Regions from separate parts of the Homo sapiens genome. Here region 2 is linked to region 1. Evidence: fine-mapped expression QTL. A gene starts in region 1. The other region holds a variant in brackets. All regions are shown on one strand. Distances are between the middles of the regions.

What was found. PIP is the estimated chance that this variant, and not a neighbour inherited with it, causes the effect.
Region 2: its variant is fine-mapped to the expression of ARHGEF38 in thyroid (GTEx, PIP above 0.99).

The regions. Positions count from the first base shown.
Region 1 is chr4:105,550,926-105,553,846 of GRCh38, forward strand. ARHGEF38 (Rho guanine nucleotide exchange factor 38) reads left to right here and starts at 1,695. Exons shown (of 14, transcript NM_001242729.2): 1 at 1,695-2,036. The coding sequence starts at 1,841. LOC105377352 (a long non-coding RNA gene) reads right to left here and starts at 1,359. Exons shown (of 5, transcript NR_188418.1): 1 at 1,268-1,359.
Region 2 is chr4:105,585,001-105,587,921 of GRCh38, forward strand. The region is part of intron 1 of ARHGEF38 (Rho guanine nucleotide exchange factor 38); the gene reads left to right. Among named protein-coding and RNA genes, the nearest start is that of ARHGEF38-IT1, 25 kb to the left of the region's middle. The variant C/T (reference allele first, on the strand shown) is at 1,379.

The sequences.
Region 1 (2,921 bases):
CTGTAGTATTTATGCATTTCTTAAGCATTTATCATGTGTAAATTCTTGCTACCATTTTTATTAGGTCTTGATCTGATTTTTATGGTCCATTGACAAAGTTTCTGAGTGCTCTGTCCTAAACCTCATGTTACCCATTAAGTCCTGTAGTTTTAATTGAACTTTTTTTTTCAGTGATACCGTATCTAAATAAATCCCTGGTGGTTACCAGGTGAATATAAATAAGTGTGTATATGCATACATACATTCATACATATATAATATTCGAACACAATTGAGGCATTTTGACATAAATCCAAAAAATTCCTTTTATATTTTAGAGGTAAATAAGCCTTTAAAAGTATTTATTAAATGTACTTGGGAGGATTTATTCAAAAAAGACTATCAATTATATTAAATAAAAGCCATTCAATACGCCAAGCTATATATAGATGTCTCCATAGTGGGTGAAGATGTGTCATTTATCTTTTAAGATAATTATGCAAACTATATTGAGCACACACATCCTGAGCTGGGAAATGACTTTTACATCTTTCTCCTCATTTATAAATCTTTTCCAACAGAAGTTATGCAAGATTCAGACTGGTCAGCACAGAGCTGGATTTTGGTGGTCCCTTTACAATAGGAGAGAATCCATTTTCCTCCTTAGGGTCTTTCTTTTCTTTAACGAAGGCATACAGAGCACTCAGCACATTCCCAGAGCTTCTTAGAATTTTTCCCTTGAGAGATCTCAGGAAATATGAGGAAAAACAACTTCAAAAAAATTAATGAAAGGCCTATCACTGTCTGCCTTTCTCTCTTTTAATCCCTGCCCTATCCTTTCTACTTTCTAGAAGTGTAGTGCCCCTTCAGTTTCAAACATTTTTCCTCTCCTTAAATTCCCAAGGTGGGATGCCCTTTTCTGGCACTCCGTCTATGAAAGGGACAGGGAAAAGATCTTATAGAAACTGAACCCTGACACGGGGCTTATTTTCCTAAGGACCAAAACATAAAAGGACAGGGTGGGACCATGGAAGGATTAATTTCAGGCAAGGGCAGCCTGTGGAGAGTGAGAAATCTGAAAAGGCTCTAGGCTTCTATGGGCATTCCCCTCCACTTCTTCTGCCTGCTGCCAGATGACTCTCACATGTGAATCCTTATTTCCTCAGGAATGCGGATCAGGGTTTGGCAAGTATGTTTTCAGTAAATAATTGCTGAATGTTCAACGCTTAAAGGCAGAAGCATAACTTTGAGTGTGCACAGTAATCACTGAAAATGATTCTGTACTCACCGTTTTGATGCAAATGCAAATTCTCATAGCCCCTGCACTGACTCCGTGGGTCACCTGTGAGTAACTCTAGCCAAAAGCCACGCACAAGCCCTGGTCTGCCTCCAGGCAGCAGACCACAACACAGTGCCCTGAGTGCACCTGCACACACCCATGGGCACACATTAAACCCATAAACGGCGGGTTATGCTAACGTGTACTTCCTTCCTCACTGCCTCACCTTGTTCATTTTCCTTTTTCCCCACCCCTCACCCCATACAATAGGATTTTTGTTTGCTTCAGTAGCATGTGACAGCACAGTCCCTGCTTTGCCTAGCTCTGTGCTGCAAGTCTCTCAGGTAACAGGTGGCAGCTTCCCCTGTTGGATTCTAGGTTTAAAAAAGAATGACCTCATGTGGGTGGAGCTCTGGGACTTCGTAGAGGTGGTGGCAGTCACAGCCAGGTAACCCTGGAGTGAAGCGGTTTAGTTAGAAGGGAGCAGATAAACTCGTCACTCTAGTAGCTTTAACCCTCACCCTGAGGCACCTTAGCAATCAGCCATTGCCTGCAAGCCTCCAAAGCTTGTCTTTGCCTAATATGGAGCCCAAAGAAGCCACTGGGAAAGAAAACATGGTCACCAAGAAAAAGAATCTGGCCTTCTTGAGGTCTAGACTCTATATGCTGGAGAGAAGGAAGACTGACACTGTGGTTGAGAGCAGTGTTTCTGGGGACCACTCTGGCACCTTGAGGAGGAGCCAATCTGACAGGACCGAATACAACCAGAAATTACAAGGTAACCAAAAAGAAATCAATTGTCCCAGTTACTGCACTCCCAGCTCCATTTCTGCTACGTTTCCAATTGCAAAGAAAACACACAAGGCAGAGGGGAAAATTGAATACCACCTCTCCTTCCCACAAAATAAGAAGATGAAAGTAAATGTGACCTATAAATTATAGGGAAAAAAATTTATTACGTGATTCAATGTTAAAGAGTCAATTCCGAATTACTCTTAATATTGCTGTGTTTTTCTTTTTTTTTTCCTGGTGAGGGTAATCATTTTTCTTCTAACTTCCTCTTTTCTTCTCCCTTCTCTACCCAACTTAAGAAGTGGGAAACACTGGAAAGCAAATGAGTTAGAAACCTACAAAAGATTGTTTATCTCAATGGGTAGATATGTGATATTACACCATGAGATATATCTAGGTAATGGTACTGAACTATGATTGTGGTTATCTTAAATAGGGGCATGAAACTATAATCGTGTCTGTGACAAAGAAGGAATGTTATAGTCAGAGAGACGGTATAAAAAGATTTGCTGAAATTCACTTAGGTGATTATTTCCTTTGAGTAAATTGAATAATACTCAAATATGGTAAGAAATGTTTAGCATGCTTATTTTGAATGACATTTGAGGAAATAACTTCAGTTTATTTTGTGATGGTACAAAGATAATTTGGCACAGTTATGATAGCACATCATTTGTTTCAGGGCCTTAATCTATATCCTGTCCTATCTATCCTTTCTTTCTCTCCTGTTTCCTGAAGGTCATTTGTTCTAGTAAAATTTCATTTTGATGTTGATATTGGGCAGCATTTTAAGTCTTTTCTTCGGTACTTGTTATGTGGTCCTCCAGAACTTGCCTCTCCTGCTTTTAGCACAAGGTGTGTCTGAACTCTC
Region 2 (2,921 bases), 34 kb after region 1:
CCGAAAGCAGCATCCCTATTTTTTTTCCTCTTCCTCTTCCAACTGAACTAGCTGTCCACCCACTTTAGAGTCATGCATTTTTCTTGACAAGTTGGTAACCACAAAATAATGGGATAATTGTTTGCTCTAGATGGTGGAAGAGTTTGAGACTGTAGAGAAAGTAACCCTATTTTTCCCATTCCCACAGAAATAGTTAACATTTGTATTGTTTTAAAGATCTCAAGGAGCTTCCACATGGAGCTGCTCATTTAATTCAGTCTTCATGATCACACTGTGATGGTTTTCATGCATAGTTTACAGGTAAGGAAACCAAGGCTCTGTGAGGATAACTATTAGTTATTAGTCTACTGTGTTCTCACAGCTGAGTGGCAGAGCTGATCTCAAGTCAGATTATCCTTTTCCCAAACTGCAACAACCTCTTTTTATATAAACTTCCTTGGCCAGGAATCTCCACATATATTATTAATGAATTTTGTGGCTAGAATAGTAAAAATTCACATCACCACTGGAAAAATAAAGCTTGAGTGTGAAAGAAATACAGAGTGAAGTCAATTACATGGTACTGCTTTAATATACAGCTGCATATTTCTGTTATAGCAATCTGAATATCCTTTTAACCTTAGTTTCACTTTGGCTTTGACATTGTATTTTATTATATGCAAACTATTGGGAAACATTTATTCTTAAAACAATTTTTCCTTCTTTCCTAAATAGCCCCTCCGTTGCTTTTTTTTTTTTTTTTTTTTTTTGAGATGGAGTCTCCTTCTGTCACCCAGGCTGAAGTGCAATGGCACTATCTCGGCTCACTGCAATCTCCGCCTGGTGGGTTCAAGTGATTCTCCTGCCTTAGCCTCCCAAGTAGCTGGGATTACAGGCATGTGCCACCACACCCGGCTAATGTTGTATTTTTAGTAGAGATGGCGTTTCTCCATGTTGGTCAGGCCGGTATGAAACTCCTAACCTCAGGTGATCCACCCACCTCGGCCTCCCAAAGTGTTGGGATTACAGGCATGAGCCACTGCGCCAGGCCCCCTCGGTTGCTTCATCCAGAAATAAAAGACGGGCTATAGCTGACTGCTGATTTGGGCGATATGTGTTGGCAATATTGTTGAGTTCCAAATACTTTTATATATAAAAGCTAAGTATAACTAAAAGATAAAATGTTTAAATGCAGAGAAAGATCTTACAAAAACAAAATGTGTCCACAATGCATTGCAGAGTTTGTTGGTTTAAGAAATGCAAACATAGAAAGTGTTTAGAAACCTGACCATAAAATGATGCAAGTGAAGTTTTTGTTCCTACAATAAACTTGAGTCAAAAGAGCAAACAAAGATATCTCATAAGGTTGCTCAACTGTAAATTCTCTGAGAGATTTTTA[C/T]ACCTGAGGGAGAAGTTGAGTATTTTCACTGACACTTTATTTCACCCACCTTGCCCCCACAAATTTGTTCTCAACAAGTTGTTGAGCAGTATTGGAAAACCTAAGCATTTTTTAATTGACAAAATCTGATGTAGTACATTTTAAAGTGCAGCAACTGAAACGTCTGTGAAGCAGGTTAAGTTAACATTGTGATTGAGTCCTGGAATTTAGAACTAAAAGGAACCCAAATGCATGTTTTAGGGATATTCCTTTGTCGACGATCAGGAAAAACTTCCTTCTCCTTGCTAGGATCCCAAATAATTCATAGATTAATTTTATAAGGCATAGAAGGTTTAGAACCTGGAAAAGCAATGTCAGAGCAGTTTTTCATCAGCATCATTTTTATTTTCAAGGAAACATTAAGTGATAATTGGGCAGTGTCCATACTGGTTTGTCAGCTCTCTTACGCATGAGATTTCCTCCTGTGCTCTATTTCACATACTCCAGGAGTAAAGGACGTCCCTCACACCTCTCTGCCCTCAGTCTCCCCCACCCCCACCCAATCATTTCACTATGTATAATACATCAAAATATTATGTTGTACATCTTGAATATACACATTTTTAAAAAGAAAGGGCCACAATGCAGCCTCCTCACTGCAGCTCCTCTCATAAGGTGTCCTGTCTTCCTCTTTCATATCCAAAATAATTCATTGTAATGACACGTGATTGTAACTTGCTTTTTCAAATCTGGGGCACTGAGAGGCAGGCTGCTTCTACTTTCCAATGCAAATATTACAAATTAGGCTGGTGCAGTGGCTCACACTTGTAATCCCAGTGCTTCGGGAAGCTCAGGTGGGAGGATTGCTTGAGCCCAGGAGTTTGAGGCTGCAGTGAGCTGCAATTGCACCACTGCATTCCAGCCTGGTTGACAAAGTGAGAACCTGTTTCTGAAAACAAAAAACAAAAAAACAAATTAGCAAGCACCCCCAAATTCTCATAATATAGATCAGGATTGGAGGGCTACAGGATATCTCATGCATTCATTCTCTCTCCTTGAATAGATTATCTGTTCTTATATAGCTCATGTGGATTATGATTTATGATTATGATTATTATTTTGAGACAGAGTCTCATTCTCTCGCCCAGGCTGGAGTGCAGTGGCACGATCTCGGCTCACTGCAAGCTCCACCTCCCGGGTTCATGACATTCTCCTGCCTCAGCCTTCAAAGTAGCTGGGACTACAGGAGTCCGCCACCACGCCCGGCTCTTTTGTTGTATTTTTAGTAGAGATGGGGTTTCACCGTGTTAGCCAGGATGATCTCGATCTCCTGACCTTGTGATCTGCCTGCCTCGGCCTCCCAAAGTGCTAGGATTACAGGTGTGAGCCACTGCTCCCGGCCTCATGTGGATTATTTCCTTAGCACTAAATAGCCCAAATCTCATAAAACCATGTGGTTTTGGATGCTATTTGTCAAAACTTCCTGCTTTCCTGATGAAGGAGGGATTGGTAGGCGATAAATGGTTCCAAACATACTCACCTGTGGGTCTGGATTGTCCAAAGA